Homo sapiens: one gene and its partners. The protein of the gene in region 1 interacts with the protein of each later gene in a pairwise test. Each region holds a gene or a part of one and is shown on either strand. Other genes may lie near its edges. The genes, in order: BDNF, ANXA4 and LBP.

Evidence for each region.
Region 2: the proteins of BDNF (region 1) and ANXA4 interact in binary tests that used the Homo sapiens proteins (3 or more experiments, as listed by UniProt).
Region 3: the proteins of BDNF (region 1) and LBP interact in binary tests that used the Homo sapiens proteins (3 or more experiments, as listed by UniProt).

What each region holds. Positions count from the first base shown.
Region 1 is NC_000011.10:27,690,377-27,694,036, forward strand, and holds part of BDNF (neurotrophic factor BDNF precursor form isoform a preproprotein), read right to left. Parts: intron 765-3,660; exon of another isoform or gene 730-764; intron 1-729. UniProt on the Homo sapiens protein: Important signaling molecule that activates signaling cascades downstream of NTRK2. During development, promotes the survival and differentiation of selected neuronal populations of the peripheral and central nervous systems.
Region 2 is NC_000002.12:69,822,070-69,824,968, reverse strand, and holds part of ANXA4 (annexin A4), read right to left. Parts: intron 1-2,899. UniProt on the Homo sapiens protein: Calcium/phospholipid-binding protein which promotes membrane fusion and is involved in exocytosis.
Region 3 is NC_000020.11:38,359,968-38,363,627, forward strand, and holds part of LBP (lipopolysaccharide-binding protein precursor), read left to right. Parts: intron 1-736; coding exon 737-800; intron 801-3,660. UniProt on the Homo sapiens protein: Plays a role in the innate immune response. Binds to the lipid A moiety of bacterial lipopolysaccharides (LPS), a glycolipid present in the outer membrane of all Gram-negative bacteria.

The DNA of each region.
Region 1 (3,660 bases):
TAGAAGAAAAGTGGGACCTATTCCGACTTCCTGATCCTGTGATTTTTTTCTTTTTTTGAGATTCACACACACACACACACACAAACTATGCACAAGTTTGCTTCCATGTTGTATAGCAAGAGTTTAAATATTTCTGAGTTAATGATGCCAAACTGTGCTCCGATTATATCAGCATATTTACATGATCCTTGAACACCACATATAGATTCCTATACTACACATTTAAGCAAAATCACCTCCTGACTTCACAATGAAAGAGACCTATTGGATTAAAAAGTGGTTTCTAGTAAACCCCAAAGAGATACTGTTACTAAATTACTAAATTTAAAGGCAAAATAGTATTCACTAAACTGATTTTTCTGTCTTATTTTCCTTATTTGGCATAATCATTAACCAACTTCTAGTAAATGGAAGCATTCTCACAATTTAAGTTTTTTTAGGGGGAAACACACAATTTATAAATACTGTCAAGTGAAGAACAGATTCCTGAATACTAAAAGACCCATGCATATCCTTGTATGTAAAAAAAAAAAAAATCCATCATAAAATCATAGACTCAAACACCATCTTTGATTCAGTAGTTCTCCCTCTACTGTGGCTTCTGCTATAGAGTCATTGTTAAAAAGAGTTCTTCATGAAAGATTCTCACATAGCAAAATGCTTTAAGAAAATGTCTAACAAACATTTTTATTGTCTCAATTTGTACACAAACTGACACCTGAAAATCAGAGAGGATAAAGAACTTCAATCTTTAAAAAAGAGAGGTAAGTTATTCCAAAATGCTACCAGTCAATAATTAAAAATACAGTTTGGGGGCAAGAAGTTCTGAAATAACTCAGAGAACTTGCTCAAGATTTTACTTTTGGACCAGTCCTCTTTGGGAGGGAGTATGTGAATAGGTAATGAAAGCCTTATATGAGAGAGTCAATGGAGAGCCATATCAAGGAGCACCTGAAGATATATGGATCAATACAGGGAAAAGAAATCCAAGTAGCCCAGTGCCTGACACTCACTGGGCACTCAATTAATGCACGGTGAATTAACAAATGAATTAATGAAAGAACCATTTGCTACATATAACATTCTTACTTTAAGAAAAAAGAATTTGAAACAGAAGAAAACATACACGCAAGAACACATACAAACTATAAACTATATGATATCCTAAAGGAGATGTAAATATTAAACTGTTTGCTTTGCTGACTGACACTATTAATACCTAAAAGCAGTATGAGAGATCACAAAGAATAAGTACTCATTCATACTTGGAGTGGGCTGCTCATCTTATGGTCTAACTTGCATTTTATGTCATGGCCATGTTGCTTAATCTCCAGCTGTTCTACAGAAGAGCAAAATAAGTTATAAATAAATTATTAAAGAAAAAAAGTAACTCTATCCATGCTGAGGCCTGAGGGAGTTGGGGGAGGAGTCAATTCCTTTTAGTTTATATTTAAAAAGAGAAACTCTTTGGAAAACTGTAATATCTGAAGATTTTGTGGTTTCCAAAAGTGAAGGTGAACGGTGAGAAGTTTTCTTAGTTTAGCTACTGAACCCTAAAAAAATATAACCTCAAAAGTTAATTTCTTAAGCAATTTGGGCACCTGAATTTGATAAGAACTTTTTTTTCCAGACATTCTGTTCTGTCTAACCCAAAGGAAAAATAGCCAATTTTGAGAATCTGTATACAAATAAGGAAAAGTAAAATACAGCGCTTTGCAAAGAAATGGGAGGGATTTCTGATACTCAATTCATGATGCTAAACACTTCAAGTAGATGATTCAAAGGCAGAAATATATAACTGTTCTCATTAGGATTGTTTATGGACTATAAATAAGGAGCAGACTTATGGCCAATGCATTAGAAAAAAACAAGTACAAAGGCACTTCAGAAAATACCTTACTCCAACCTCCCATTTTAGTGTCATTTCTAAAAGGGTTTCATTTCAGCCTTCCTACCTTTCTTCCTTCCTTCCCTTCCTTCCCTCCAACGGGGTCTCACTCTGTCACCCAGGCTGAAGAGCAGTGGGACAATCACGGCTCACTGCAGCCCCAACCTCCTGGGCTCAAACGATCCTACTGCCTCAGCCTCCCAAGTAGCTGGGACTACAAGTGCCTGTCACCAGGCTTGGATAATTTTTTTTGTCTTTTGTAAAGATGGGGTCTTGCTATGTTGTCCAGACTCGTAATGATCTCCTGGGCTCAAGTGATCCTCCCACCTCAGCCTCCCAGAGTGCTGGGATTACAGGCATGAGCCACCACACCAGACCTCTTTTTTCTTTATTATATATTCCTCTAATAAAGTGCTCTGTATGCAGTGAGCATTCAATATTTGCTAAATTAAATTAATGGAAAGTTTTCTAACTACCATGTAGAGTATCTAAATTTACATCATTGGTTCTAGAACTGCTGTCTGAAGCAACACAAATTACACTTATGACAGTTCGTCAAATCTTTGAAGCCCATCCTCAAAATAAGGATGTCAAAAATACATCACACATGTTGACACTCTAATCTCCCAGCCACAGTAGGCATTAGCAATCTGAATGTTATTTTTACTAATCCTTCACAGTTTTAGAATTCTTCTCAACCCAACATTCAAAAACCACTTGCCATTCCAGCCTAAGTTTTCTTGTCCCTAAGTCATGCATTCCAAGTCCCCTCAACCATTGCTCACATGCAATGCTTTCAAATTCCCTATGCATCCTGGTCACAGTGATTTGAATGTACACTAATTTATCGATGATGTACCTAAAACAACTTATTTCATTTCCTTGAACTGATGATAATATTCTAGATACAGTCTATTTAAAAAGTGAAGAATTATTAGCTTCTCCATTTCAGTATTATATTTCTAGCAGTGCAGCCCAAAATTTCAGTAGCTATGATAACAGCCTCTTGTCACACCACTGGCTTATACTGAACTTGCAGTTAATTTAAAACATTCAAGCTTCCTTTCTACAATCTGCTGATAAGTCATCCCCTAAAACCGTGCCCGCAACTCTCTATTCTCTCCTAAATTGATTTTTTTGTACTTAATCATAGTATTTTACATTTAAGTAAATGTAAATGATCCAGATTCTATCATTCAACAGAATGTCTGCAATATCTGCTGGCTTTATGTTTCATATGATAAGCATATCGTCTGTGCCTTCAGACACATTATCAGCCAACATGTCGGTGCTGGATGTATTTTCCCAATGTTGCATAAGAGGAATACCTTCGAGAGTTTGGCCTAGGAATGTGGCCTGGGACTCCGCCAAGCATCTCTCTCCAGCAAAATGACTGCAAATTTCTCGACCTTCAGATTCTACATGATGTAAAAGAAGTTTGTCTGTGTTTAAAAACACATTCAAGAAATAAGTGAACATGTGAAAAGACAGAAAAACTTGTTTTAATTTGGGCATAGTTTCAGTTTTCAAAGGCACATGAAGGCAGAAAGAAAGAATCACAAAATGGAACTACTGATGATAGCAACTCCAAAACCAAGACTGATTAGACTAAATCCCATGTGGCAAAAATTTTATTTAGTAAGTTTCCTTCTCCCTCTCTCCCTTTAGATATATGTGCATACACACACACGCACCTTTATTTTAGTAATTTTTTTTTTCTGAAAAAGAAAGTTTTCTGCACCTGATTGCTTCCATGAATAACACAAAGCACA
Region 2 (2,899 bases), on another chromosome or scaffold:
CAGCCTCCTGAGTAGCTGGGACTACAGGCGCCTGCCACCATGCCCGGCTAATTTTGTTTTTGTATTTTTAGTAGAAATGGGGTTTCACCATGTTAGCCAGGATGGTCTTGATCTCCTGATCTCATGATCTGCCAGCCTTGGCCTCCCAAAAAGTGCTGGGATTACAGGCGTGAGCAACCGTGCTAGGGCCCTATTTTGTTAAATATTATTCTACAACATTATTTAATGGTTACAGAATATCCCATTGTATGCAGGTAAAATAATTTATTTGATCACATCCTCCCTCTCCCTATTGTTGGATATTTACGTTGTTTCAATTTTTCACTATTATAAACACTGCTTCAATAAGCATATTGTAGTTACATTTTTGTATATTTTCTTAATGATTTATTCTGGATAAATTTTCATAAAATGGGAATTACTGGACTAAATGCATTTTCTTAAACCTTTTTTTTTTTTTTTTTCTGAGACGGAGTCTCGTTCTGTGGCCCAGGCTAGAGTGCAATGGTGCAATCCTGGCTCACTGCGACCTCCGCCTCCCAGGTTCAAGTGATTCTCCTGCCTCAGCTGCCTGCGTAGCTGGCACTACAGGTACACACCACCACGCCTGGCTAATTTTTATTTTTTTAGTAGAGACAGGGTTTCACCATGTTGGCCAGGCTGGTCTTGAAGTCCTGACCTCAAGTGATCCACTCACCTTGGCCTCCCAAAGTACTAGGATTACAGGTGTGAGCCACCGCACCCAGCCTGTTTTCTTAAACATTTTGATATGGGTTACAAAACAGTCTTCCGGAAAGGTTCTATAATTTCTGCATATAAATTTTTGTGGTCTAATAATTGATTAATTTTTTAATCTTTAATTTTATTTATTTATTTTTATTATATTTTTAGAGACAGGGTCTTGCTCTATCACCCAGGCTGGAGAACAGTGGTGTGGTCATAGCTCACTGCAGCTTCGAACTCCTGGGCTCAAGTGATCCTCCCACCTCAGCTTCCCAGAATGCTGGGATTACAGGTGTGAGCCACTGCACCTGGCCTAGATTAATTTTTATTAGTCATTCGTGGGGACTAGAAAAGATGGAATCTCTGTATATAGGGTTCAAAGTTTAATAAGTATCTGTTAAGCTCAATCTTAATATATCCTTGTTTATACTTTGCCTCATTGATGTGCCAAAGCATAGGATGTATTAAAGTCTCTCGCTAGCATACTAATTCCATTATATGTTTTCTTCTGGAGCCTCAAGTTTCTTATTTATACATTTGAATGCAATATAATTTGGTACTGAAAGTTTCATAACAGTTTAATCTTTGCTGTGAATTGTTGCCTTTGTCAGTATAACGTGATCCACTTTCTCCTATTTAATACTTTTTCTCCCTAAATTCTTCTTTTTATTAATAGCATAATCTCCGCTTTCTTTCTTGTATGTCCGCTTTCTTTCTTTCCCTGGTGTTTTTCTTTAAGCTTTTTACATGTCACTGTATTTTAGTTGTTTCTTATAAACAGCATGAAGTTGGATTTTATATTTTTACCTAACCTGAGAGTTTATTTATTTTTATAACTTTTATTTTTATCTTTTGTCATTTTTTTCTATTATTTACATATTTTATGCTTCTATTCTGCTTTTTTCATTTCTTTTGACAACTATTATTGAATGAGTAATGTATTCTTTATTTTTAATCTTTTCTAGTGGTGTGTGTGTGTATACACACATATATTTACATATTTATATATACAGACATATATACACTAGATTATAGTGTTTTCTTCCCAAGCCAATCAATATATTTGTACTCAATCATTTTAGTGTTGGTATAGTATTATATTGTATGGATTTTCCATAATTTGTTATTCCCTATTGATTAATAGTAATAACAATATATAATAAATTATATACTATAATACCATATTATTGATATAAATATAAATAACATAAAGCCATGTAAATAATATAAATAATGCTATGATGAAGTATTATACTTCATCTATTCTTTTCACATTTCATTAAACAATTTTATTCAAATTCAGAGACTTTTTCTTGTGGTAAAAAAATATATATATATAATTTGTCATTTTAACCATTTTCAAGTGGCACTAGTTACTTTTACAATGTTATGTAACCATCATCACTGTCTATTTCTAAAACCCTTTCATCACCCCAAACAGAAACTCTGTACCCACTAACCAATAACTCCCATTCTTTCCTCTCCCTCCAAATTGCTGGTAACCTCTAATCTACTTTCTGTCCCTATGAATCTACCTATTCTACATATTTCATAAAGCAGAATCATACAATATTTGTCCGTTTGTGTCTGATTTATTGCACGTAGTATATTTTCAAGGTTCATTCACGTATCAAAAATGTCATTCCTTTTTTTCATGACAGCGTACCATTGAATATCATTGCTTTTTATGTATGTATATACATTTTGTTTATCCAGTCATCTGTTGATGGATATTTAGGTTGTTTCCACCTTGTGCCTATTGTTAATAATGTTTATGTTGATGTACAACTAGCTGTTTGGGTTCCTGTTTTCATTTAAGTATATAACTGAGAGTGGAATTGCTGGCTCATATGGTCATTCTATGTTAAAATTTTTTCTTTTTCTTTTTTGGGATGGGTCTTTACTCAGGCTGGAGTCTTGAAGTGGTACAGTCATGGCTCACTGCAGCCTCGACCTCCCCAGCCTCAGGTGATCATCCCACCTCAGCCTCCTGAGTAGCTGGGACTACAGGCGTGCACCACCACACCCGGCTAATTTTTGTTGATTTTGTAGAGACAGGGTCTCACTATGTTGGCTAGGCTGGTCTCGAACTCCCGGGCTCAAGTGATCCACCTGTCTCGGCCTCCCAAAGTGCTGGGATTACAGGCATGAGCCACGATGCCTGGTCTATATTAAA
Region 3 (3,660 bases), on another chromosome or scaffold:
CAGGCCGAATGTGGTGGCTCACGTCTGTAATCCCAGCACTTTGGGAGGCCAAGGCAGGTGGATCGCCTGAGGTCAGGAGTTCAAGACCAGCCTGGCCAACATGGTGAAACCCCGTCTCCACTAAATATATAACAATTAGCTGGGCGTGGTGGCACATGCCTGTGATCCCAGCTACTTGGGAGGCTGAGGCAGGAGAATCGCTTGAACCCAGGAGGCAGAGGTTCACCCAGGAGGGTGAGCCGAGATCGCAACACTGCACTCCAGCCTGGCCAACAGGGCGAGACTCCATCTCAAAAAAAAAAAAAAACAAAAAAACTATCTACATTAACTGTATGTTTATTTGTGTTTATTTCTAGTTAGTGTCTAGTTCTGCTATTAAACTCTAAATTCTGAGAGGCCAGGACCTCCCAAAGGAAAACTTTGTAATGGTGGAGTTTCAGGCACTGTCTCCAGCCAGTGCCCCCTCCTCAGGCTGTGTCAGTGACTCCCTAGCTCAGGTGTCCAGCCCTGGGACAGACTGAAAAGTCCAACTGGACCCTAGTGGAGTCCACATGGGGGCCCACATAGTTTTATTGTTTGTATTTCCTTGGTACCTGGCTCATGACAAGCACTTATAAATATTTGTAAATCAGTGATCACTGAGCACATGTGTGGAATAATGTGACTGCAGTGATCAGCACGGGGCCAGACCAGAGCTGGGGAACTCACTCAGTCATTCTCTTCCCATGTTTTTCAGATTTGCGAAATGATCCAGAAATCAGTGTCCTCCGATCTACAGCCTTATCTCCAAACTCTGCCAGGTAGGACACCCCATCCATCCCGGGACACTTTTATTTCTGTTAATTTCTATAAGAGCATATATATATCTTATAAAATAGTAAATGGGGCAAAAATATAGAAAGTAAAAATTAAGGGCCAGGCGCAGCGGCTCACACCTGTAATCTCAGCAGTCTGGGAGGCCGAGGCGGGTGGATCACCTGAGGTCAGGAGTTCGAGACCAGCCTGGCCAACATGGTGAAACCCTGTCTCTACTAAAAATACAGAATTAGCCGGGCGTGGTGGCGCATGCCTGTAATCCCAGCTACTCGGGAGGCTGAGGCAGGAGAATTGATTGAACCCAGAAGGTGGAGGTTGCAGTGAGCCAAGATCACGCCATTGCACCCTACCCTGGGCAACAAAGACCGAAACTCTGTCTCAACAGAAAAAAAAAAAAAAAGAAAGTAAAAATTAAAAGTTCATTTTTCTCCCCCACTTTTCTTCCAAGAAGTAACTTCTGTTTTGGGTGTATCTTTTCAGATATTTTCTTTGTATGTACAAATATAAATACATGTAAGCATATAAATAGACATTCATGTATGTATTATTTTGTTCATGAATCTATGTGTATATGTATTATTTTAAATATATATGTTCATATACATATAGTATAGGCATTGTTCCAGATTTCTTTTTTTTGAGATGGGGTCTCACTCTGTGTCCCAGGCTGGAGTGCAGTGGTGTGATCTCGGCTCACTGCAGCCTCAAACTCTTGAGCTCAAGTGATCCTCCTGCCTCAGCCACCTGAGTAGCTGGGACTACAGGTGCATGCCACCACACCCGGCTACTTTTTGTATTTTTTGTAGAGACAGGGTTTCTTTATGTTGCCCAGGCTGGTCTCGAACTCCTGGGCTCAAGTGATCTGCCCACCTCAGCCTCCCAAAGTACTGGGATGACAGGCACGAGCCACTGTGCCAGCTTGATTTCATTTTTAAAAACTTTTTATTGAAGTATATTTATAAAGAAAAGTGCTCAAATCATAAGTGTGCTGTTAAAGAGTTTTTACATGCATGTAACCAGCTCCCAACCGAGAAACAGAACACGGCTGGTTTTTCAGAGCCCCTGGTGTCCCCCTCGGTCACTGCCCAGCCCTCCAGGGTCACCACCATCCCAACTTCTACCAGCAAAGATTAGTTTTGCACTTTGCACATGAATGGAATCAGACAATATTTTGAGTCTCTTTTCAAAAGCCAGAAGGCTTTCTTTGTTCAACTTTAAAATATGAGGTCAGGGCTGGGCGCGGTGGCTCACGCCTTTATTTTTTGTTTTCTTTTTTTTTTTTTTTTTTTTTGTGAGACGGAGTCTCGCTCTGTTGCCCAGGCTGGAGTGCAGTGGCGCAATCTCGGCTCACTGCAAGCTTCGCCTCGCGATTTCACGCCATTCTCCTGTCTCAGCCTCGCGAGTAGCTGGGACTACAGGCGCCCGCCACCACGTCTGGCTAATTTTTTTTGTATTTTTAGTAGAGACGGGGTTTCACCATGTTAGCCAGGATGGTCTTGATCTCCTGACCTCGTGATCCGCCCGCTCGGCCTCCCAAAGTGCTGGGATTGCAGGCGTGAGAGCTCACGCCTGTAATCCCAACATTTAGGGAGGCCGAGGCGGGTGGATTACCTGAGGTCAGGAGTTCGAGACCAGCCCAGTCAACATGGTGAAACCCCGTCTCTACTAAAAATACAAAAATTAGCCAGGTGCCGTGGTGGATGCCTGTAATCCCAGCTACTCGGGAGGCTGAGGCAGGAGAATCACTTGAACCTGGGAGGCGGAGTTTGCGGTGAGTTGAGATTGTGCTACTGCACTCCAGCCTGGGCAACAGAACAAGACTCTGTCTCAACAAAGAAAAAAAATAATAAATAATAAATAAACAAAATAAAATATGAGGTCAGGTCAGGCTTGGTGGTGCACACCTATAATCCCAGCACTTTGGGAGGCCAAGGAGGGAGTATCACTTCAGTTCAGGAGTTCAAGGCCAGCCCGGGCAACATAGCGAAACCCCATCTCTACAATAAATACAAAAATTAGCCAGGCATAGTGGTGTGTGCCTGTAGTCCCAGCTACTTGGGAGGCCAAGGTGGGAGGATCGCTTGAGCCCAGGAGGTCAAGGCAGCGGTGGGCTGAAATTGTGCCACTGCACTCCAGCCTGGGCCACAGAGTGAGATCCTATCTCAAAAAGAAATGAAATAAAATAAAACATGAGGTCCATGCATATTGTTGCATGCACCTGTAGTGTAGCTGGTTTATTCTCCTTGCTGCATAGTATATCACCATGTAGATGTTTCCCCATTTATTTGTTCATTCTACTGTTGAAGGCCATCTGGGGGGTGTTCAGTTTTAGGCCATTATCCGTAGTGCTGCTATAAATGTCCTAGTACCTATGGTCGCATGTCTTTGGGTATATATCTGGGAGTGAAATTGCAAGCTCGTCATATCATGTGATATGCCCAGATTCAGCATTATAAGATCCTGCCAAACAGTTTTCCAAAGTGGTTGTAACAGACCTTATTTGTTAACAGCCGTGTAGTGTTCCATCACATGGATGTGTCTTCATTTATTTAATAAGTCCCCCACTGATGGACATTTAGGTGCTTTGCTGTCCCTTGCTATTGCCAACAGGGCTGCAAGGAGCCATCTACAAGTGGAGTCTCTGGATCCAGGGTGCACACATTAAGCTCGGAGGGGGAGACCCTGGCAAATTATCTGAGATGTTCTCTGATGCCTTAGCTCCTAAGCCCCTATGCGGTTATTTGCTGACATCACCTTTACCAGAGGTCCAGGTCGGCAACCCGGTACTGGGACTTGGAACATTCATCCATTCAGGGTTTTGGAGGGGAGTGTCTGGGCCCTCTG